Linked DNA regions of Homo sapiens. The protein of the gene in region 1 purifies or fractionates together with the protein of each later gene. This does not show direct contact. Each region holds a gene or a part of one and is shown in the gene's direction. Other genes may lie near its edges.

The links.
Region 2: the proteins of SLC44A3 (region 1) and DNAJC16 purify together in Homo sapiens (affinity purification with mass spectrometry; one large-scale study listed by BioGRID and IntAct). This does not show direct contact.
Region 3: the proteins of SLC44A3 (region 1) and ITFG1 purify together in Homo sapiens (affinity purification with mass spectrometry; one large-scale study listed by BioGRID and IntAct). This does not show direct contact.
Region 4: the proteins of SLC44A3 (region 1) and RP2 purify together in Homo sapiens (affinity purification with mass spectrometry; one large-scale study listed by BioGRID and IntAct). This does not show direct contact.
Region 5: the proteins of SLC44A3 (region 1) and TPM4 purify together in Homo sapiens (affinity purification with mass spectrometry; one large-scale study listed by BioGRID and IntAct). This does not show direct contact.
Region 6: the proteins of SLC44A3 (region 1) and CNTNAP2 purify together in Homo sapiens (affinity purification with mass spectrometry; one large-scale study listed by BioGRID and IntAct). This does not show direct contact.
Region 7: the proteins of SLC44A3 (region 1) and PTPN4 purify together in Homo sapiens (affinity purification with mass spectrometry; one large-scale study listed by BioGRID and IntAct). This does not show direct contact.

Annotation. Positions count from the first base shown.
Region 1 is NC_000001.11:94,819,217-94,823,156, forward strand, and holds the start of SLC44A3 (choline transporter-like protein 3), read left to right. Parts: upstream 1-1,140; 5' UTR 1,141-1,235; coding exon 1,236-1,262; intron 1,263-1,384; exon of another isoform or gene 1,385-1,507; intron 1,508-1,732; coding exon 1,733-1,840; intron 1,841-3,940.
Region 2 is NC_000001.11:15,547,348-15,550,847, forward strand, and holds part of DNAJC16 (dnaJ homolog subfamily C member 16 isoform 1 precursor), read left to right. Parts: intron 1-922; coding exon 923-1,081; intron 1,082-3,500. UniProt on the Homo sapiens protein: Plays an important role in regulating the size of autophagosomes during the formation process.
Region 3 is NC_000016.10:47,451,064-47,454,563, reverse strand, and holds part of ITFG1 (T-cell immunomodulatory protein isoform 1 precursor), read left to right. Parts: intron 1-405; coding exon 406-551; intron 552-1,773; coding exon 1,774-1,831; intron 1,832-3,093; coding exon 3,094-3,168; intron 3,169-3,500. UniProt on the Homo sapiens protein: Modulator of T-cell function. Has a protective effect in graft versus host disease model.
Region 4 is NC_000023.11:46,847,043-46,850,542, forward strand, and holds part of RP2 (protein XRP2), read left to right. Parts: intron 1-3,500. UniProt on the Homo sapiens protein: Acts as a GTPase-activating protein (GAP) involved in trafficking between the Golgi and the ciliary membrane.
Region 5 is NC_000019.10:16,082,995-16,086,494, forward strand, and holds part of TPM4 (tropomyosin alpha-4 chain), read left to right. Parts: intron 1-3,428; coding exon 3,429-3,500. UniProt on the Homo sapiens protein: Binds to actin filaments in muscle and non-muscle cells. Plays a central role, in association with the troponin complex, in the calcium dependent regulation of vertebrate striated muscle contraction.
Region 6 is NC_000007.14:148,408,801-148,412,300, forward strand, and holds part of CNTNAP2 (contactin-associated protein-like 2 precursor), read left to right. Parts: intron 1-590; coding exon 591-671; intron 672-3,500. UniProt on the Homo sapiens protein: Required for gap junction formation. Required, with CNTNAP1, for radial and longitudinal organization of myelinated axons.
Region 7 is NC_000002.12:119,979,922-119,982,660, forward strand, and holds part of PTPN4 (tyrosine-protein phosphatase non-receptor type 4), read left to right. Parts: 3' UTR 1-2,739. UniProt on the Homo sapiens protein: Phosphatase that plays a role in immunity, learning, synaptic plasticity or cell homeostasis. Regulates neuronal cell homeostasis by protecting neurons against apoptosis.

The DNA of each region.
Region 1 (3,940 bases):
CATCTGCTCTACTGATCAGTTTCAGATGGCATATGTTATTCAGTTGTGGTCTTTTAACAGTAGTTGCACTCCTCCAGTGTCTAATTCTTTGTCCTATGAATTCATGTTCCCCTGGGGTTTCACCTACTCTGTCTGATAAACATGCATCCAGGAAGGCCCAGTGAGTTTGCAGTGGGAGGGTGGTGTGAGCCCAGAAGGAAATCGCTGGCACCAGAGAACCACTGTCTATCATTCCCAGTTTCTCCCACTTACCCAGATCTTTCCTCCAGTCAGGTTTCTACCCTTAGGGAGAAGCAGCACCTAAAGGAAGCAATTAACCTAGCAACCCTAAGGGTGGCAGGGGGAAGGGTAGAGGCTTGATTGAGAGGAGGTGGGGGGAGGTCGGCCTGCAGTTTTTTTTGTTTTTCGTTTTTTAAATTCCTCACCCCAACAGTGCTTTTGCGCTGGTCTGACACTACCTGGAAAACTATGCCACCAGTCGCTTCAGTGGACACTACCATTTCAATTGCGAAGTCAGGCAATGATTGTCCTAAGGCAAGGTGGGAGAGAAGTCAGAGTAAACCACCTCGAGAGCGCCGGTCTCCCGGAGTGTCTGGGTTCGACTCCTGCCTCCACAACTTACTGGGTCTCCTCGAACAAGTTGCATCACCAATGGCCGTGCCTCAGTTTCCCTCCTCCGTAGATTAGGAATAACAATAGCAGTGAGAACAGAATCCAGCACACAGTAAATGCTGCTTACCTGTTTGCTATGTGGAATACGCCACTACACTGTTGCTCGGCCCTCAGGAAGGGTCTGCTGAGACTTTCTACTTCCTGCTCAGGGCAGAGGCCGACCACCCGCCCAAGGTCGTGGCGGCGCCGGCTCAGCTTTAGTCGTCAAAGTGCACATCCTGGGAGCCGCTGCCTCGAGGTGGTTGAGGCGAGAGGGCAGGGAAGCGTCTGAGCCTCTTCCTCCCACCAGAGCAGGACCCCAGCTGACAGCGGGTGAGCTGGGCAGAAACCCATGCCGGGAAGAGGCGGACCCAGTGGACCGCAGCGCCCGCAGTCGCCGGGCCAGGCGCAGAGGCGAACGGGAGGCGGCGCTGCACCGTGCCCGCCCCTCCCCGGCCCGGCCCCGGCTCCAGCCCCAGCCCCAGCCCCAGCCCCGGCCCCGGCCCCGGCTCGCGGGCGCTGCGTCTCCGCGTACAGGAGGCGGCGGCGGCTCCCAGTCACCGGCCCCCGCCGGCGAGCGCACGATGCACTGCCTGGGCGCCGAGTACCTGGTAAGCGCTCGCAGCCTCGGCCCTCGGGGGAGGAGCCCCGGGGAAGGGTCGAGTCCCCCGCCTTCACGCACCTTCCCTGCCGGACGCTTCCGCCTTTCCCGCGCCTCGGGGATCCCGCCCCCGCTTAGTACCTTGGGGCCACCTGGCGGGGAGGAACCTGGACCCTGCTCCAGTGCTGGGGCGGAGGCGGGGGAGACGCGGGCCGCGGGGCGCAAACTTGGGGTCGTCCTCAGGTGCACCTCCAGGTAAGCACTTGGCGGCAGGGGGCTTAACATCCGCTCCGCGCAGAGCAGGTGTTTCAAAGGCTGTGTGAAAGAGCTTCAGGTGGCCACGTAAAAAAATAATATTAATTTTAAAAATTTAGAAAAAGATTGGTTACTTTGGCCCCTCTTCGAGTAGATTTGGGTTCGGTTTCCAGGTTGAGTCCACCTGTTTATCTTCTTTTTCTCAACTCTCCCTTTTTCTGGAAGGTTTCTGCAGAAGGAGCCCCTAGGCAAAGGGAGTGGCGACCCCAGATTTATAGGAAATGCACAGATACGGCATGGTTATTCCTGTTCTTTCTCTTTTGGACTGGTTTGGTAAGTGTGGGTGCTTGGTAGGAAAGAGGCCAGAGTGTGTGTGCACGTCTGGAAATAACTCTGTCCCAAATGTAAATCGTAGTTGGTGCTGCAGTGAGAGACTTCTGCCGTTAACCCACAATAAACATCAGTTTGTACTCGGGAGAATTCTTGTCCTAGACTCGCTAGAAAGGCTGTCTTTTTGCTACAGGCCATGTTCTAAGGGGTGACTCCATTAGGAAATGGGAATTAACAGTTTGCAATGTGATTGCTATTTAGTAAGGCCAATGTGTCTCCTTTTACTCTCCGAACTTACTGAACAGAAGTTCTTTTAGCACCTGCCACACCCCCAAATCAAATATTCCTCAAGCTTTTGGTGCACCTTTAACAAAGGAAAAGCCAGGGTAAGCCTAGAAATAAACTGCATTTCCTTTAGCTGAACATCACACACACACGCGCGCGAGAGATATGTTGTGTTTAGCAGCCAACACTGTTAACCATAGCTAACAAGGAATGATTTTTCCCACTCTAATTTCGAGGTATGTATGATTGCTGGTAAACTCCATCAGGCTATGCGGTTATAATCCTGAGAGAGTCTGTTGGAAGCCGAATCTTGCTGCTTTTATACTTATTTTAGAATTGTAGGTAACAGCAGAAAACGTCTCACCCGACATTTTCAAAGGCCACTTTCACGAAATCATCCATGCCAGGATAAGGCATGCTATTTGCTGCATGGTAAATGATTAATTTATAGAGCAGGGTAATAACTACCAGATAGTAATTACCTTTGTTGAAAAGAATTCCATCTGAATAGGCCCTAAAATATCATGTTTGTTCTTTCCAAGTAAGAAAGGCATTTGTTCACTTATGACCCGTTTCACATAGACAGGCTTGGTTACAGGCACAGTGGAAGGTTAGGTCTGAAACACATAATCAGATGTTTTTTGTTGCTTACGTTGGAACTCTCCCCTAGGAGCTGGGAGAGACAGTGCACCTACAATACCTTCTGCTTAACTTCGCAGATGGTTGGTGTTTTTATCTGAGACTGCTGTTGTATAAATGCAGGGAGCAGCTGGCCTGCCTTGTGCCTGGCAGCTTTGACCTCAAGCTGTTATTGTGATTTAATGATCTGCCGTAGCCCCTCCACAGCTTCAACCTAGGACCTCACTACCAAACTCTCAGCCCAACAGCTGAGAATCCTGGGGAAAATCTTTGTAGATGACCTATCACAGCCTGAAGAATTGTGAACCAGCTGAGAGGTGGCACGGAGCTGGAAACTGCTTTAAAATTACATTTCATTTGCAAAATAAGTCTGAAGTTTTAATATATCCAAGTTCTCACTATGGCATTCTGTTTTAAGAGTCAGAGTCCTTTCTTAGCTCACTGGCTTTTAGTGTCTTTTGCAACATTTTTTATTTGCAGGTATTTAAAACAGAGCAAGGAGTGTTTTGTTTTTGGACTTTTTTTTCTGCCTCTGTTGTTCAGCTTTCAGGTCTTGTGACAGATGTCCTGACTGGTGATGGTGTGCCCTGAGTTAGGGCTGGACAAAGGCTTGGGGGAAGGAGCTGAAATTATAAGCAGAGATGGTTCTTGCAAATGCAGCACCAGCCTGTGTTTATATTTGCATTAAACATAAGGAACAAAGTCTCAAAGTCTGGACTATCTCTGCCTCTACTTACCCCTCCAGTATCCTCTCCTGCCCTGCCTTTTCCTATCATCCCTCAAGATTCCATTTTCCTGATTTTGCAGGCACGGTTGACAGTGACTACCTTGGTGGCCAATGTACTAGACCAATGTACACACCTCCTATATCACCTGTCATATAGAATCGCAATTGCATGTTTGAAATTAGGACAATGAAGGTTTATAGTAGTAGTTTCTTGGAAGGCCGAGGCAGGAAGATCCCTTGAAGCCAGGAGTTCAAGACCAGCCTGGGCAATAAAGCAAGACCCTGTGTCTACAAAACATAAAAAATAATAATCATAAAGTCATAGTTTTATTAGGAGGGACTCAGGAATCCTCAGAAACCACTCCCACCTCTCCCACCCAGAAAAACTTTCCATTCTTCACCACAGGCTTTCCAAAGGAAAGAATGATGGTAAATGGAAAACATCACTTTGT
Region 2 (3,500 bases), about 79 Mb from region 1:
ATGTTGGCCAGGCTGCTCTCGAACTCCTGACCTTGTGACCCACCTGCCTCAGCCTCCCAAATTGCTGGGATTACAGGCATGAGCCACTGTGATGGGCTTTTTTTTTTTTTTCGGAGACCAAGTCTCACTCTGTTGCCCATGCTGGAGTGCAGTGGTGTGATCTAGACTCACTGCAACCTCCGCCTACCGGGTTCAAGCAATTCTTTCACCTCTGCCTCCAGAGTAGCTGGGACTGCAGGCACACACCACCACGCTCGGCTAATTTTTGTGTTTTAGTGGAGATGGGGTTTCACCATGTTGGCCAGGCTGGTCTTGCACTCCTGACCTCAAGTGATCCGCCCACCTCGGCCTCCCAAAGTGCTGGGATTAAAGGCATGAGCCACCACGCCTGGCCACTATCCCTGTTTGCATAGAGCAAGATACTGAGGCTTAGAGCAGTCATATAACCCACCCAAGTTCTCACTACAGCATGGTGAGCGCGATTCCCACTGACTTCAGACCTGCCCTGTGAATGATTCCCCCACTACACTCCCAGCCTACCTACACTCCCCACTACCTCTCATGTCACTGTGACATGAGACGGAGAGGAAGGTGTTATCAGTGGCATGGTCACTGCCATCTTACCTAATTACGGTACAGGTAATCCCCAAACTCATGCCTCCTGACCAGTACAGATTTCAAGAAGATCGTTATTTTGCTTTAGCTATGAAAAAGAAGAGAGTTGTTTGTATTTACTTTGTTGGTACAGTTTTTGCACATGGAACACCATAGAATGGAAGTATACAAGGATACGGAAGACCTAGTGGAGCTGTGTAAGCTGGCATGTACCTCTCTGCTCAGTGATGTGAAAAAGCCCTACTTGATTTGTCATTTACATCTTTGCTGTAGTTTTATTTTCTTCCTCTCTATTATGCCCTAACAGTTGACTGCCTTTGCATACAAAGATTATTTATCATTTGGATATGTATATGTGGGTTTGAGAGGGACGGAAGAGATGACAAGGCGGTACAACATCAATATCTACGCCCCTACCCTCTTGGTCTTTAAAGAACATATAAACAGGCCTGCCGATGTTATCCAGGTACGTGAGGGTCACCTTGGTTAAGATTTTCTTCACATTTTATCCCAAGATTTTATGTAAATAAACAGCAAAATTGAACAAAGTGGCTGAAGGAAAGGATCTTCCTTCAGATGCACAAAATTTTTTAATGAATTTTTTTATCTAACTTGGTACCGTTTGCTTTAAAATTTTTAATTTAAAACGTTTAAAAATTTTAGCACCTTTAAAGGGCTCCTGTTGGAAAACCAACAATCTTTTTCCAAAATGAATTTAAAAGTTAAATGTAAAACAGTAATAAAAAGGAATAAGAAGAAGCCACAAACTAACTGAGAGAATGTACAGATGAATATTTATCTGATCTTAAGGTAGGAAAGGGTTAAAAAGCATTGGGGAAAAATCTTGGAAAATCTTGATAACTTGACTCTAAATTTTATGTTTTTATGTAAATACTTTAAAATGTAAAGTTAAAAAACTGGGGGAATATTTATAACAAATATTAAAATGTTGATATTTTTAATTTCTAAAGAGCTTTTAATCAAGAAAATCATAAAATTCTGAGAAGACTAATAACCATTTTTAAAAATTAAATCTCACAAGTAATCAGAGAACATTAACCTTTTTTCACCCATCCAACTGTCAAAGATTTTCTAAGTTAAAATAGTACTGTTGAGGGTATAGAGAAACAAGTACTATCTTGCTAGAGGCAGTCCACTCTAATGGCAGCTCAGGTGTCCTGTGAACACAGAAGGGTACCTGAAACCATGGAAACCAGATGGGAAAGTGGACCGTAAAGAAAGAAGAGCAGGTTTAGAAAGATAAGAACTTTGGCTGTGGACATACTGAATTAGAGCTGCCTGTAGGAAATAGAAGGGGAGAAGTCCTTTCTACAGTTGGGTATAGGAATCGAGATCTTAAGAAAAGCATACAGGCTGGGGATAGAAACTGGTGTATCATCAGTAAATGGTTAGTGGTTGAAGTCCTGAGTAGGGTAAGATCTTCCCGGCATAATACCGTAGTCTCCCCTGATCCACCCCACTTACCCCTTTTTCAGTTTCTGAGGTTTCAGTTACCCACAGTCAACCAGGTCCAAAACATAGGTGACTACAGTGCAAGAAGATATTTTGAAGCCGGGCGTGGTGGCTCACGCCTGTAATCCCAGCACTTTGGGAGGCCGAGGCGGGCAGATCACGAGGTCAGGAGATTGAGACCATCCTGGCCAACGTGGTGAAACCCCGTCTCTACTAAAAATACAAAAAATTAGCCGGGCGTGGTGGTGGGCCCCTGTAGTCCCAGCTACTCGGGAGGCTGGGGCAGGAGAATGGCGTGAACCCAGGAGGCGGAGCTTGCAGTGAGCTGAGATCACGCCGCCCACTGCACTCCAGCCTGGGCGACAGAGCAAGACTCCGTCTCAAAAAAAAAAAAAAAAAAAAAGATGTTTTGAGCGAGGGGGACCATGTTCACATCACTTTATTACAGTATATTGTTAGAATTGTTCTATTTAAATATTGTTGTTGTTAATCTCTTGCTGTGCCTAATTGATAAACTTTATCATAGGTATGTGTATAGGAAAAAAACATAGTTTGTATAGAGTTCAGTACTATGTGGTTTCAGGCACCTACTGGGGGTCTTGGAACGTATCCTCTGCAGTTAGGGGATGACTGCTGTATGTAAAGTAAGGCCAAGGAGGCCAAGGACAAAACTCAGAACAGCCACCGGCACACAAGACAAGGGGGTGCCTGATGGAGACGAGAAGGTGCTGCAAGTCAGGAAGAAAACAAATACCAGTGTCCGAATAGAAAAGAGAAGATAATCTCAATCCAGGGTAAATGGATGAGGATTTCCTAAATTGGTCTTTCGGAACAGTTTATAGTTCTGAGAATTATATTTATTTATCCCACTGGGGAAAATTGTAAATCAAATACATTTACAAAATTATTGGTAGAATGGCTGCTTTACCAGCTTGCTCTTTGTGGATATCAAGTGTATGCTTAACAAACTCAGTTTTCACAACAGCAGGTGGCTTAATGATCACTAGTAGCACCAGTGGTTTCCTGTTGCTCTAGGTAATTTGTTGTCATTGCTATATGGTATTTATGGCCATTATAATTTATTGAATCATTCTTCCGTTGGTGGACATTGGGGGCTTTGAGGAATAGTGTTGCAATGAATATCATAACCTAAGTACAGAGTTCTCTAGGACAGCAGTTTTCAGAATGTGGTTGATAGACTCCTGGGGATTCTCAAAGATCCTTCAAGAGAAAGTCTGTGAGATCATATCAAGACACGATTTGCCTTTTTCACTGTGTTGACATTTACACTGATAGTACCAAAGCAGTAGTGGGTGAAGCTGCCAGTGCCAGTGCATGAATCCAGGCAGGGCACCAGGCCACCTACCATCATTGTGTGCTTCACCCCCAATCACTCGCAGCAAAAACAAACC
Region 3 (3,500 bases), on another chromosome or scaffold:
AATAATATCTTTTAATTGAAAACATCCCAGTGATAATGCTTACTGCTTTGGCAATTATGAGCCTCCATTTGTTAGAAACACCATCCGAATGTCTTGGTGTCCTTGACAAAGGAACTATATAGAAGGGCTATACTAGCCATTGCTTGAACATAATAAACACGTTTTCTCTCGACATATTTCAGATTTGTCTTGTTTCTTGAGACTATTCTGCATTCATTCTGAACTCTTTTTTAGACCAAAGAGGTCTAAATACATGATGGATGAAAAGATAGGAAAGAGAAGGCAATCAGTCAGTTCTGTTAAGTTTTAAGTTTTTCATTGAAAATATTTTTGTGTGGTAGAAATACAGAATTGTCCTTTTCCATTACAACTTGTCTGATATTTGTAAATGCTTGTTTCTTTTAGGAATCACAGTGCATTGATAACAAGTGTAGTCCCTGGGGATTATGATGGAGATTCTCAAATGGATGTCCTTCTGACATATCTTCCCAAAAATTATGCCAAGAGTGAATTAGGAGCTGTTATCTTCTGGGGACAAAATCAAACATTAGGTGAATTTGTTTTAAAAATTTTTAATATTTATCATTGAATATGAAGGTAAATGTAACAAAATATTGTTCTGAAATCAGTTCAAAAATACTGTTCTTGGGTGTCAATAATTGTAAAACCTTTTTTCAAAGTTTATTTCCTGATTTTTCTTTTTCAACCCTGAACTGGGCAGGGATCACTTCTACTGACAAACTTCATTCTTACTAGCTTAAAGAGGACAGAGATTTATTAAAGGATTTTAGTGGCTCACAGAATCATTGAGATGGCTAAAGAATAAACTCTAGGTTGAGCTTTCAGGAGCAATCCCAATATCATCAAAAAAGCTACTGCCTCTTTCCCCTATCAGAAGTGGCTAGTTACACAACTGCTGCCAGAATGATGCTGTGCCTGCAGTGATTCTCACTAGCAAAATGAATGCTGCACCTGGTCTCTTGATACTCCCAAATTCAGTGAGCAGACACAGATAGAAATAGCAGAGAAACAGCCTTTACCTCATTCATGCCTTTAAGACTCACAGTGTATCTGATTGGCAAGGCTTAACTTTTATTCAGCATCTCAGATGCCACAATATCTGGAAAATGCTATTTTTGGTTTCTAGTCTCCTTAGCACAGGAAAGCACAAAAAAGTTGAAGTATGGTTCGAGAGTCAGTCTACCATACCTAGTCACAAATCATCAAGCCTTATCTGAAAAGCCAATTAGTTATACCTAAATAGGCAACTTTGTTCATGGAGCCAAATTTCAGTCATGTTTTCTGCACCATTTGGGAATGTAAACAGTAATCGCGATACATTATATTCATTAAGTCAATAAATATTTACAGAGGGAGTACCATGCACAAAGCTTGTATATAAGCATGTACATTTTAGAACCAGGAAGTTTTGCATATGTGGCCTTCTTTACACCAAAACCTTGTTAATTGTCAACCTCTCTAGCACTAAATTGTGTAAAGACAAAGACTCAGCTAGCAAATATTTAGATGCATACCTCAAAAGGAGGTTATTGTAATGCTAGTCTTCACTGTAGAATGTATTCTCCCAATATTTTGTCTTTGCAAGCTTGATGTTCATTTGAACTAGATTTATAGTATCTCATTAATGATAATAGTTGGAATAAATCAGAGATAAATCTAGAAAAGAGTAGAAGAATATTTTTTCCTAAGCATAGATATCAAAAGTAATATAAAATGCCTGCTAATTCATATATATATATATCTTTTTTGCAGATCCTAACAATATGACCATACTCAATAGGACTTTTCAAGATGAGCCACTAATTATGGAGTAAGTATGGGCTTGCTTCCTTTGAAACGATTTTAAACTTAAACATAAAATAAAATCTTCACATAGGAAACTACTTTGCTTAGTAATAAAAATACTAAATTCACTCAGAGGCCTGTACCTTTGATTATATTGTATTTATTTGCCATCAGATAGGACAAAGAAAAATGAAATTTATTATTTTGGAAAGTAGAAGAGATTTGTGTTTTTATTTCAGTCGCTTCAAATGTGTCCATTATGGATCTATGCTGTCATTACTGAAAGAATTAAGATACCTGTTTTTGAGTAAAACTGTTATATTTGATATTTAGGATACAGTTTCCTCTAGAAATTTAGAAAGATTCCTATATTAAGGAGAAATTTTTGTTCTTTTTATAATATAACTCCTGCTTTGTGTTATCATTTATATTCTCACTGTAGACTCATGTACCAGCATAATTGATTTAAATAATTGATGTAAATTTGGATTTGCAAATTTCTGACAGCGTATTTTGGTAGAGGTCGAGATCATTCCCGGGACTAGAGCAAAGTTTGGCCACATTCTTGTTTCCAGTACTGTCTTTCTTACAGTTATTAAAATCATACCCATACAGCAGTGTGTCAGTGGCCATTAGAAGTCTGAACTGTAAATCCATGGATTAATCTTCTTAACGGTGCCCCGCTAGATTTCTTTCATAGTTGTGTATTTTTTCATTGTTGTTAAAATATTCAATGGCCAGTATGAAGTTTTATACCAACTAGGATTATTTTTCTAGGTTATTTCTCCTAAGCCCATCTAAGTAAACAAGTTGGCTTAGGATTCTGAAGTAAGTTTCTAGGAATTAGTGCTGTATCCTTATCATTCAAGGGTAGTCTAGATAATGCAAAGATTACAGAGATACCCAAAATCTCACAAAACGAATTTATTTCTTGCTCTTACTATATGTCCAGTGTGGGTCAACAACAGGCTCTGCTCTGTGCTGTTGCTTAGAGTCAGGCCATCAGAGAGCCCACTGTCTTTGTAGCTAGTCCATCTGAATCACAATGCCTTCTCATTGCCATGGCAAGCCTGGAGAGGGCTGGAGGGGCTGGTAACAGAAATTATACACTTTGGCCTAAAAGTGACACATGTCACTTGTGCTGACATTTGACTTAATACTTATCACTAGATACTGGCGAGCATTGTAATGTCTACCACACTTCCCAAAAGTTACTGCTTCTTTTAAAGCTAAATTAGAAGTAAGAATTTAAAGAAATAGCTGCTTATTGTTTTAATTTTTTTTCAGTTTCAATGGTGATCTAATTCCTGATATTTTTGGTATCACAAATGAATCCAACCAGCCACAGATACTATTAGGAGGGTGAGTAAATATGGTTATAACTATGTAATTAATCGTATATATTGCTTCTACTTTAACCATTGGAGAAAAAATAGCTCATTGGAATCCTTGTTTTTAAAGATTTTTAAGTGGGCATTTGGTTAATATATATAAGCTTTCTCAAATAGTTTGGATTTGGCCTGCACCTGCTTTCCAAGGGCCAGCTTACTCCTTTTATCTCTTTGAAAAATTAGAGATTGAAACTTTACGGGTCCCCATTTAAATATTGGTTCATTAAATGTTTTTGAAATGGATAGATTTCACGTAAATAGGGAGGATACCTGCAGTCTTGAGTGGATCCTCCCTATCTTAGT
Region 4 (3,500 bases), on another chromosome or scaffold:
AATGTTTAGCCATTCTAATAGGTGTGTAGTGATGTTTCATTGTAGTTTAACTTGCATTTCCCAAATGACTTGTATTTACCTAAATGTTGAGCATTTTTCATGTACTTATTTGCCATCCATATATCTTTGGTAAAATGTTTATTCAAATCATTTGCCCATTTTTTTATTGGGTTATTTGTTTTCTTATTATTGAGTTTTTCAGAGCTCTTTATATGTCCTGGATACAAGTCCCCTGTTATATATATGTTTTGCAAATACTTTTTTCCCAGTTAATAACTTGCCTTCTCTTAAGAGTGTCTTTTGAAGAGCAAACATTTTCAATTTGAGTAAAAGTCCAATTTCCACTCACTTTTTCTTTTGTGGATTGTGTTTTTGGTTTCACATCTAGGAATTTTTTTTCTTTTTCTGAGACGGAGTCTTGCTGTGTCGCCAGGTTGGAGTACAGTGGCGCGATCTCGGTTCACTGCACTATATGTATATGTATGTATGTATGTATGTATATACACATACACCATATATATGTGTGTATATATATACATACATATACAAAACAATTGCTTACTAGATGCACAAATCAATGGAATAGAGAGTTCATAAACAGGCATATCTCTCTTTACATATATATATCTATATCGATCACACTATATATATGTGTGTGTGTATATATACACACATATATGTGTGTGTGTATATACACACATATGTGTGTGTGTATATACACACATGTGTGTGTGTACATACACACATGTGTGTGTGTATATATATACACACATATATGTGTATATGTGTATATATGTGTGTATATATGTGTATATATGTGTGTGTATATATATACACGCATATATATGCGTATATACATATATATGGACTCATATATGTGTATATACATATATATATATATATATATATATATATGGACTCACAGTGTGTCCTTGGACAAGTTATATAGTCTCTGTGTGCCTCAATTTTCTCAAGTATAAAACAGAGATAATTATAGTACACAACCCTTATGGGGTTTTTATGGATTGAGTGAATGATTATAGAGCACTTAGTATGGTGCCTGGTACATATATAGTGCTTCTTATACTCCTGAATCTTTTTACTTCTATTCAGACTGGATTTTCATTGGAATTAACAAATCCCATTATTTTATCTCACATTATCATTATGGAAATTTAACTGTGGAGATGAATTTTAATGAAAAATTTGTATTGCCGCTTAGTAAGATAATAAGATGTTCATTTTTGTTTTCTGTTAGGAAAATAATGCTTAACTTGGTTTAATAGCTGTAGGACATTAAATTGATATCAGACGAATTACAACTCTTGAAATTTTTCTTTGATTTTTTTTTTTTTTTTTGAGACAGAATTTGGCTCTTGTCTTCCACGCTGCAGTGCAGTGGTGCGATCTCGGCTCACTGCAACTCTGCCTCCTGGGTTCAAGCGATTCTCCTGCCTCAGCCTCCCAAGTAGCTGGAATTACAGGCGCCCACCACCATGCCCAGCTAAGTTTTGTATTTTTAGTAGAGACGGGGTTTCACCATGTTGGCCAGGCTGGTCTGGAACTCCTGACCTCAGGTGATCCACCCGCCTCGGCCTCCCAATGTGCTGGGATTACAGGCGTGAGCCACCACGCCTGGCCACTTTCCTTGATTTTTTAAAGTATATCCATTACCTTTTAAGGATTGTAGTAAGAAATAGTCTAGGCCAGACACGGTGGCGCATGCCTGTAATTCCAGCACTTTGGGAGGCTGAGGTGGGTGGATCGCTTGAGTCCAGGAGTTCGAGACCAGCCTGGACAACATGGCGAAACCCCATCTCTACAGAAAATACAAAAATTAGTTGTGCATGGTGGTGTGCACTTGTAGTCCCAGCTACTCAGGAGACTGAGGCGGGGAGGATTGCTTGAACGGTGGAGGTCGAGGCTGCAGTGAGCTGTGAGTGTGCCACTGCACTCCAACCTGGGCAACAGAGTGAGACCCTGTGTCAGAAAAAAAAAATACAGTCTAAACTAAACTCACTTCATAAGTGGCTCTTAGGAAAAAATAATTTAAAACATGACCTTTCCATGTTTGTGATTCTAGACACTTTATTTCAGAACTAGTAACCTGCAAAATTACGAAGGATTTCAGTTTCAGTTGTTTATTATTACTTTTTTTTTTTTAAAGTGTCAGGGTCTTGCTTTGTCACCCAGGCTGGAGTGCAGTGGCATGATCATGGCTCACTGCAGCCTTGAACTCCCAGGCACAAGCAGTCCTCCTGCCTCAGCCTTCTGAGTAGCTAGGACTACAGGCGCACACCACCATGCCCAGCTAAGGGTTTTTGTGTTTTTTTACCCCCCTTCCACCAACTCACTTCAAATAATCTGCTAAGTTTTAAAAAACTTTTTTAGAGCTAGGGGAGTGTCACTGTGTCACCCAGGCCAGTCTCAAACTCCTAGTCTCACTAGGCCACTGGCCCACTCTCAAGTAGCTGGGATTACAGATGTGAGCCACTGTGTCTAGCTCCTAATGCTTTTTGTTTTGAAAAACTTTCAGGAATTGTTGAGAAAGTACAGCAACATAAATCTTAAATTTCTCCTTGGAAGGCCGTGCTGACAATCCAACTAATTTTATACTACAGAACTATTTAGCTATAAAATCTTTAGCTATCAGATTAATTTCTCCCTATGAGCTAGGAAAAGTGGAGCGTCCAGAGAAAATACTTAGGGTAGTAAATTACATTTAACTCCTCAGCATTGGCAGCTGTTATGGACTGAATGTTTGTCAAATTCATATGTTGAAGCCCTACCCCCCTACACATGGCTGTATTTGGAGATGGGACCTCTAAGGAAGTAATTAAGGTTAAGTGAGGTCATAAAGGTAGAGTGCTGATCTGATAGGATTAGTGTCCTTATAAGAAGATTCAGTTAGCTTGCACTTGCTCCCTCCCTCTCCTTCACACAGAGGACAGGTCTGGTGATGACATAGCAAGAGGTTGGCTTTTGCAGTCTGAGCAGACTAAAACAGGCTGCCATAACAAAATACCACAGACTGGTGGCTTAAATAACAGAAGTTTATTTCTCACAGCTCTAGAGCCTGGGAAGTCCAAGATCAAGGTGCTAGCAGATTCAGTGTCTGGTGAGGGCTCTCTTCCTGGCTTACAGACAGCTGCCTTCTTGCTGTGTCCTCACATGGCCTTTCCTCTGTGATTCATCCTTCTGCCTTACCTCCTACAGCCATTGAATTACCAGTCTGCTGATTCTGTTTCCTCAGTATTTCTCAAATTCATCCCATCTTCTTCTTCCCTACTAATTACAGCTCTGGTTCCAGCCCTTTCTGTATGACTACAATAGTCTCTCCGATCAATCCATGTTGCATGTGTCCTTATCTCATCAGAGTAATTATCCTGACATGTAAATTTTGCTTATTTAAATCTTTCTGTGGTTCCCTCTTGTCTGTGGATAACTTCTAAGCTTTATATAATACGGTTTCTGCCTACCTCTGTAGCTTCATCTACTAG
Region 5 (3,500 bases), on another chromosome or scaffold:
AAAAAAAAAAAAAAAAAAAAGCAGAGTACTGTGGAGAGGAGGAAAGGAAACTTGGGATGCACAGGTGATTGTTAGCAGAGCTGTCAGGCTTTAGGCTTTTGGACGGTGACAGCTATTTCAGGGACAGTTGCAAACCAGCATGGTTAATGTACTTGCAACTGACCATGCACCAGGTGCCGTGGCTCACGCCTATAATCCCAGCACTTTGCGATGACGAGGCGGGTGGATCAACTGAGGTCAGGTGTTTGAGACCAGACTGGCCAACATGGTGAAACCCCGTCTCTATTAAAAATACACAAATTAGCTGGGCGTGGTGGCGGGCACCTGTAATCCCACCTACTCAGGAGGCTAAGGCAAGATCCCCCAGCTTGAACCCAGGAGGCAGAGGGTGCAGTGAGCCAAGATCGCACCACTGCACTCCAGCCTGGGCAACAGAGTGAGACTCTGTCTCAAAAAGAAACTGACCACGTTCCTCACCCGCCCATGGTATCTGTGCTGCAACCCAGCCACCAGTAGGGTGCCTTCTCCTCGGTAGCCAGATCATTCTCTGGCACGCCTTGGCACAGGCTCTCTGGAAGACTGAGGGTAGATTGTGTAATTCACAGAAGCAGCAGTCTGTGTGTGGTGGAAAAGGAGTTCCTTGTGTGGCAATGGTGTGGGCCCGACCAGTGATCATCGCGTCTGCCCCTCATTCACACCGGAGTTCTCACTTGAGCCAGCCACCATGCTTTTGCAGTATAAACACCTCCCAAAGATTCATTTCTTTTTTTTTTTTTTTTTTTGAGACAGGGTCTTACTCTATCACCCAGGCTGGAATGTAGTGGTGCGATCACAGCTCACTGCAGCCTCGACCTCCTGGGCTCAAGCGATCCTCCCGCCACGGCCTCCAGAGTTCCAGAGTAAAGCTGGGACTACAGGCGCATGCCATCATGCCCAGCTAATTTTTTTTTGAGACAGAGTCTCGCTCTGTCGCCCAGGCTGGAGTGCACTGGCGTGATCTCAGCTCACTACAAGCTTCACCTCCTGGGTTCACGACATTCTCCTGCCTCAGCCTCCCAAGTAGCTGGGACTACAGGCACCCGCCACCACACCCGGCTAATTTTTTTGTATTTTTAGTAGAGACAGGGTTTCACCGTGTTAGCCACGATGTTCTCAAGCTCCTGACCTTGTAATCCACCTGCCTTGGCCTCCCAAAGTGCTGGCACGCCTAGCTAATTTAAGATGCATTTCTGGTTGTGCTGCTGTGACCACTAACCAGAGATTAGAAACCAGCTAAGGAATCTTGGAGATTGCATGTCACCCAAGCTGGAAATTTCTTCCCAAGTAGTGGAACAGCCAGGGCAGAGGGAACAGACGCTACTGCAGACTCTGCTTCAGCCACTGAATCAAGGGAGAGAGTGGCAGCTCCGGCAGCCACGGGGCAGTGGAAGGACCCAGTCACGAGAGTTCCTGGCTGTGCCTGTGGCCTGGGTTAGCTGCTGTTCACAGTCAGACCAGCCTGGCTGGATGCTGACGTTGAGGGCTCCCATATTGGCAAACCAAGGGAGGCTGCGAAGGCCAGTCTCTTGTTTGCACCATGTCCCCAGAGGCCTTTGGTGACACCCCTGTTAAAGACTGCTGTGTCTCAGTAGAAAGAATTATATACTTGAAGCTTGGGGATCTAGAGTCAGCTTCTACCACTGGCACTTTCTATGGAGCCTTAGGCAAGTCACTTTGATCTCTTGGGTACTACAAGGGGTTTTGGGGCAATAAATAACCCAGAGAGCTTGCTCACATGCTGAGGGTGAGACCTCGTACAGGTGGGGGAGGGTGTTTTGAGACTTAGCTGAGAACGGGTGACACCCCACGTGAACATATTTATTGGACAGCAAGAAGCATATGGTCTCTGTGCTGGGTGGGAATGATACATATCAATGACACATTATCCCAGGCTGGCCTCTTCTTTTCTTTTCTTTTCTTGTTTTAAATACACAAGGTCTTGGCAGGGTGCGGTGGCTCACACCTGTAATCCCAGCCCTTTGGGAGGCGGGCGGATCGCTTGAGCCCAGGAGTTTGAGACCAGCCTGCGCAACATAGTGAGACCCCATCTCTACAAAAAAATATTAAAAATTAGCCAGGCATGGTAGTGCATGCTGGTAGTCCCAGCCACTCAAGGGACTGAGGTGGGAGAATCACCTGATCCCAGGAAGGCAAGGTTGCAGTGAGCTATGATTACACCACTACACTCCAGCCTGGGCAACAGAGTGAGAACCTGTCTCAAGAAAAAAAATAAATAAATACACAACGTCTTGCTCTGTCACCCAGGCTGGAGAGCAGTGGTGCAATCACGACTCACCGCAGCCTTGAACTCCTGGGCTCAAGCGATCCTCCTACCTCAGCAACATTGCAAAACCCCCACCTCCACAAAAAATTTTTTTTTAGTTTAGCTGGGTGCAGTGGTGCACACCTATAGTCCCAGCTACTCAGGAGGCCGAGGCAACAGGATTGCTTGAGCCTGAGAGGACAAGGCTGCCGTGAGCTCTCAGGGCACCACTGCACTCCAACCTGGGCAACAGAGTGAGACACCATCTCTCAAAATAAAAGAAAAAGAAAGGGGGCACAGACTCTGGAGTCAGACTGCCAAGGGCTGAGCCTCAGCTCTACCACTTACCAGCTCTGTAACCTTAAGTTACTTACCCTCTCTCTATGCCTTAGTTTCTTCATTTGTAAAATGTGGATAATTTACCTGCTCCATAGGGCAGTTGTGAAAGTGAAGGCACTTAGAAAAGTGCCTGGTAGTAAAGATGAAGGGAGGCTGGGCGCGGTGGCTCACACCTGTAATCCCAGCACTCTGGGAGGTCAAGGCGGGCAGATCACTTGAGGTCAGGAGTTCCAGACCAGCCTGGCCAACATGGCGAAACCCCCTCTCTACTAAAAATATAAAAGTTAGCCGGTCACGGTGGTGCATGCCTATAGTCCCGGCTATGCTGGAGGCTGAGACAGGAGAATTGCTTGAACCCAGGAGATGGAGGCTGCAGTGAGCTGAGATCACACTACTGCACTCCAGCCTGGGTGACAGAGCGAGACTCCATCTCAAAAAAAAAAAAAAAAACCAAGATGAAGGAAATGTGTGCACAGAGTTCCATCTTTGCAGTGTGTTACAGTGCTCAGTAGATTCAGAGACTCATTTAGATGAGAGATGGGACTAGGGGTGGTGTCTCACGCAATTAGCCAGACATGGTGACGGGTGCCTGTAATTCCAGCTACTCAGGAGGCTGAGGCAGGAGAATCGCTTGAACCCGGGAGGTGGAGGTTGCAGTGAGCTGAGATCGTGCCACTGCACTCCAGCCTGGATGACAGAGCGAGACTCCATCTGAAAGAAAAGATAGATGAGAGGTGGGTGGAGGGGTGTGAGTGAACGGCCGTCCTGATGAGATTGCTCCTTGCAGAGGAATGAAGGTGATAGAAAACCGGGCCATGAAGGATGAGGAGAAGATGGAGATTCAGGAGATGCAGCTCAA
Region 6 (3,500 bases), on another chromosome or scaffold:
CACAACTGATTCTTACGTTTATAATAGGGAAAGAAATAGAAAATTCACTAGGCAGTTAATATTCTTAACTGTTTTGAATTATTACCCCCTTACAAATTCCTAAAGTGTGCCAGTGTCTTATTACAGCCATGAAAAATACAAGTTTAAAGGAATGATTCCTTTTTAAACTTTTTAATACTGTAGCTGTAAAAAGCTCATCTACAAATACATTGAATGCCACCAGTTGTGCATGGGGTTAAAAGTGGATGGGAAGCAGATTTCAACCAAATGTAAGAAACATATTCAAATGCATAAACTCGTCTGTCTGTGGAACTAGAGCAGGCCAGCTCAGGTAGCTCTAGGATTCTCTAATATTGCTCCAAGTGGGAAGTCGTGTTTACCTAGGCCTTGTGCAAAGAGAAACAGCAGGAACAGGGATGGAGGCTGTTGTGATTCTTGTGGGAGACAATGGCAAGACGGGTCCATCTGAAATGGAGATTTCATTTGGGAAAACAGGAAGTGTTGAAGAGTTGCATGAAGAAATAGGTATCAAATTATTTGGGATCAATAGTATACTTGACTCTGACACTTGACTCTTTCTTTCTCTACAGCCAGTGCGGATTTTCCATATAATCCAGGACAAGGCCAAGCTATAAGAAATGGAGTCAACAGAAACTCGGCTATCATTGGAGGTAGGTGATGTCTAGAGGAGGCTTATATGGGGCTACTCAACTATGGAAAGTAATAGTTGTCAATAACATAGTAGTCTAGGAAAAAAAGTTTTCTAGGTTTTTACATTATTCATTTTGCTGTTTAAAGATTATGACATATGATGTGAAGAAATATAGTAAATATAGCCGGGCACAGTGGCTCACCTCTGTTATCCTAGCACTTTGGGAGGCCGAGGTGGGCAGATCACCTGAGGTCAGGAATTCGAGACCAGCCTAGCCAACATGGCAAAACCCCATATCTACTAAAAATACAAAAATTAGCTGGGCGCGGTGGCTCACGCCTGTAATCCCAGCACTTTGGGAGGCCGAGGCGGGCGGATCACAAGGTCAGGAGATCGAGACCATCTTGGCTAACACGGTGAAACCCCGTCTCTACTAAAAATACAAAAAATTAGCCGGGCGCAGTGGCGGGCGCCTGTAGTCCCAGCTACTCAGGAGGCTGAGGCAGGAGAATGGCGTGAACCTGGGAGGCGGAGCTTGCAGTGAGCCAAGATTGTGCCACTGCAATCCGGCCTGGGCTAAAGAGCGGGACTCCGTCTCAAAAAAAAAAAAAAAAAAGAAAGAAAGAAAGAATATAGTAAATGTAACCTGGCTACTTTTTAATGCTGGCTTGTAAAAAACAAATAGCAGTGGAAAGCTGGACAGACTCAGAATAATTAAGTAGGTAGTAGTGACCATAGCCAGGACATTTCTTTATCCCCCTCGGATATTTTTCAGTCTTATCCTTTCGCATCCAAAATGGTCCAGGATAGCGTACTATAAAAAAATGAAAAGGAATGCTGGGTGCAGTGACTTACGCCTGTAATCCCAGCACTTCGGGAGGCCGAGGCAGGTGGATCATTTGAGGTCAGGAGTTCAAGACCAGCCTGGCCAACATGGTGAAACCCCATCTCTAAAAATACAAAAGTTAGCCAGGCGTGGTGGCGCATTCCTGTAATCCCAGCTACTCGGGAGCCTGAGACAAGAGAATTGCTTGAGCCTGGGAGGTAGAGGTTGCAGTGAGCTGAGATCACACCACTGTACTCCAGTCTAGGTGACAGATTGAGACCTTTCTCAAAAAAAAAAAAAAAAAAAAAATACGAAAAGGGAAATGCCAGTCTGATTTCAGTTATCATAATAAAAATTATCAGAAAATCACTGGAGGTCATTATTTTAAGTGAAATAAGCTAGGCACAAAAAGACAAATATTGCATATTCTCACTGATACACAGGAGCTAAAAGATTTACACACATGGAGGTAGAAAGAAAAACACGTAACAGAGATTGGGAAAGTTGAGCAGGAGGAGGAAGGAGAATGAAGAGAAGTGGGTTACAGGGTGCAAACATACAGTAAGAAAGATAAAAGGAACAAGTTCCGGGTTTGCTAGCAGGGTAGGATGACTATATCTAACAAAAATGTACTGTACTTGGTTGATGAACCCCTAAATACTATGACTTGACCACTATTCCTTATATACGTGTAACAAATTTTCTCATGTACCCCGTAAATTTGCACAATGAAAATAATAAAAACTAAAAATGTATCAGAAGATTTAACAAGCTGTAGCATCTAAAATATTCCAGTGTTTTCTTCTCACCATGGACAGCTACATAATAATTTGACTCTCCTCGGATAGCCACTGAGCCTCATGCGTAGATCGATATTGACATCCCTGTTACCATTAAGATCCCAATCCTCACTGTCTTTTGCTTTTTTAAATGAACTTAATTGAAGTATAATACGCATCTATAAGTGTAACAAGTCCGTAACTTTTATTTATTATTATTTTTTGAGACAGAGTCTCACTTTCTGTTGCCCAGGCTGGAGTGCAGTGGCGTGATCTCAGTTCACTGCAATCTCTGCCTCCCGGGTTCAAGCGATTCTCCTGCTTCAGCCTCCTGAGTAGCTGGAACTACAGGCACGCATCACCATGCCTGGCTAATTTTTGTATTTTTAGTAGAGACAGGATTGTACCATGTTGGCCAGGCTGGTCTCCAACTCCTGACCTCAAGTGATCCACTCGCCTCAGCCTCCCAAAGTGCTGGGATTATAGGTGTGAGCCACCGTGCCCGGCCCCAATCTTTTTTATAGTTTGTGGTTGGTTTGTCCTATCTAAAAAGTCTGCCTACCCAAAGGTTTTGAAGATTTTCAGCTTTCTTCTAGAAGTTGTATCACTTTATCATTTGCCATCAGGTCTTTAATCACTTCGAGTTAATGTTTATAAATGGTGTGAGAGAAGAGTCAACGTCAGTATTTTCCAAATGAATATCTAGTCATTCCAAGACCATTTGTTGAAAAAAAAAAAACTATACTTTTCCTCAATTGAATTTTCTTGGCACTTTTGTTAAAGCAACTGACATATGTGTGTGTGTGTGTGTGTGTCTATTTTCTGGGCTTTTTGTTTTGTTGGTCTATATATATCTTTCCTTAGCCAATATCATGCTTGCTTTATTGTTGTATCTTTTTTTGTTGAGATGGGAGTCTTGCTTTGTTGCCAGGCTGGAGTACAGTGGCGCGATCTCGGCTCATGCAACCTCCGACTCCCTGGCTCAAGCGATTCTCCTGCCTCAACCTCCCGAGTAGCTGGGATTACAGGCACGCACCACCATGTCCAGCTAATTTTTGTATTTTAGTAGAGACAGGGTTTCACCATGTTGGCCAGGATGGTCTCAATCTCCTGACCTTGTGATCCACCCACCTCGGCCTGCAAAACTGGTAGGATTACAGGTGTGAGCCATCGCTCCCGGCCTGTTGTATCTTTATACTAAGTCTTGAAATAAACAATGTAAGTTCTCTAATCCTGGCCAGGC
Region 7 (2,739 bases), on another chromosome or scaffold:
AGGTGTTTTATTGAGCATCTGATTTGTGTCAGCACCATGTAAATATGATGAGGAGTATTTGGAATAGACTTTACATTCACCAGAAAATTGATAGTATTTGTTAAACCAATGCATCCATTCAAAATAGAGGCAGAGTAAACAGCCTAAGAAATGATTTCCTTTCTACAGTCTGCTAGGAGAAAGAGGTGAGAGGGGAGTGGTTGATGATTTTAATCAAGAGTAAAGGGAACATTTATTACATGAAATCTGACTTCAGTTGTGCAAAGGTATGTTAAGACATTAAGACAATTGCTGGAAGGTTTCAAATATGTGTACACACACATAGAGCTACTTTTGTGTGTTTATTTATATGTATATTTCACAAAGGCTAATGCCCACAGAGGAAAATGATTATTTTAACTTCTGGGTTATCATCTGCTGGCAGGGTCTGATCAGGTCTAGAGTATTTAAGGAAAAGTCTCCTGTCTTCTATCTCCACTAGAAGTACTGCAGCTTGAGAGCTGAAAGGAACTTGAAAAATGTTATCCAGTCTTCACTTAGCCCATTTTTATCGGCATTAGGAAATAGGGTTCAGCAATGGTTATTGATTTAGCAGTCTGGTCTTATATGATCTGCTTTCTAATTATCTATCTAGTATTCCTATATTATACTGGAACTTCAATAAATTATAACCTATGTGAATATCATAAATTCTTGTGAATTTTTGTCTATTTCCAGTAGAGAAGCATACTCAGCCAATGTTTTCACTTAATAACTATGACAACCTTAAAGGATGTCACTTAAGTTAGAAAATAAGCAGGCTTAAGAAGTGATTCTAATTAGGACCCCCACTCAGTTTGCTAGTCATGCCTGCCTGACAGAACATAAGCTTTTGTAAAGTATTTAGACTGATAACACATGCAGTATGAAAACATTATAGACTGCAGTTAGAAGACTAATTTTTTAAAAGCACTCAAAACATAGAACTAAGATTTAGAATATATGTCCATTTATAATGAAATAATTTGTGTTCATAATGTGAACATGTAAGATAAGTAAATAAAGCATTACTTGTTTTATAATATCAGGAAGAGAGAAGGAAACATTAGTTTATAACAATGTGCTATTTAATATCTGTATTTTGAACATTTAAAATACTCTGATGGTAAGGTTGCCAAAGTAATTTTGAATTCATAAAAATTGTTTATACCACAATAATGTGGGATATGTTTACAGGCTCTTTTATTTTGTGGTAGTTACTTTATAGTTCAGATGAATTTGCATTTCAGTCACTTATAGTAAATAAAGTATATTAAATATTTGTTGGAATAAAAATCTCAATGTAATAGGACATAGATAAATTATGCAACAGCCTGCTTTGATGAAAGCTGGTGCATTATGTGAGCTGCCACAGTTAATACTTTGTATTAACATTGCTTACTTCCCCCATTTGCTTCACCTATCTGACTACAATTGCTGGAATCATTCTTTTTGTGGTGCTTCCTCCAAGTGAAATAACTATGTTATTAAAACCTACTGGATTAATTTTATCAAATATCAGACTTACTGATCTCTTGGCAGAGATTTATTGGTGTCTCAGTGTGATCACAATACAAGTTGTAGCAACCATTTTATAAAACTCTTAGAGAATTATGTAGATAAAATGGAAATTACATAATCCTAAAACATTTTTGAGGGCTAATTGATAATAATTTCAGCAATTTTATTAAGAACCCAGTAAATTAATCCCTAATTTGTATGTTTTTTGTTCAACTTACCGTGTCTGCAACCATTATATAGACTTCATTGATACTCAGCAATTACTACAGTGTGTCTTACAATGTTATAAAAAACAAACAGCAATCTCTGTTTCTGCCAGAAGTTAGATATTTTTTTATAGTCCTGATGAATTTGTTGTGAGTAGACACCACATAGTTATTTCTGTTTGCATATAAATTTGCTGCTATTTATTTGTATGTTTTTCTACTGTAGTATGCTATTGATTTCTGAAGTTATAATCATAATTTTTATTTTAGTAATCCAAGCTAAATGGGCAACCAGAAGTAATATCTGCTAGGGTGCAATCCATCAGCATTGGTTCAGTGCATATACATAAGTAAACCAGTTTAAAAAAATTTTACTAAGCAAAAGGTAGTAGCAATATTGCTAGTTAAAGATTACCATTTTAGGGGAAAGTTCAAAGGTTTAACTTCCTGAAACCTTTTAAACTTTTCAGTGCAAGAATGAAAATGTTTGAAAGCCTTGTTAAGCTCATAAAAGTTTCATTTAAACACTGTAGAGTTTCCTACCTTTGTTGTGTAAAGGATATAGAAAATATTTTTCTATGGACAGAAGGTTGAAACTGTTAACTTCTTTAATTTCATTGTTTAAAGGAGATAAAATGTTATTTGTGTGTCTTTCATGCTGTAAAGAAAATGAATGTATCTTTCAAATGTCATTAGAATTATGGCTTGATTCTAAGGATACTCTATTTGTTTTAAAGTCTACACGGGATTGAAAAGAAAGGGAAGAGTATTACACTTCATTGTACAAAATGTAATTTTAGAAGAAAAACATTTTCATTATAAACAAGAGCAATCATTGAAGCATTTTCAGATATAATGTACATTCTTTTTCATTTTGCTTTGCCTCTAGAATAGAAACTTTTCAGAAAATTTGCACATACTGTTTGTAAGTATAAAATAATTGAATTCTAGACTTTTGGAGTGTGGAAGGGTGTTTGTGTGTGAAGGTAATAAA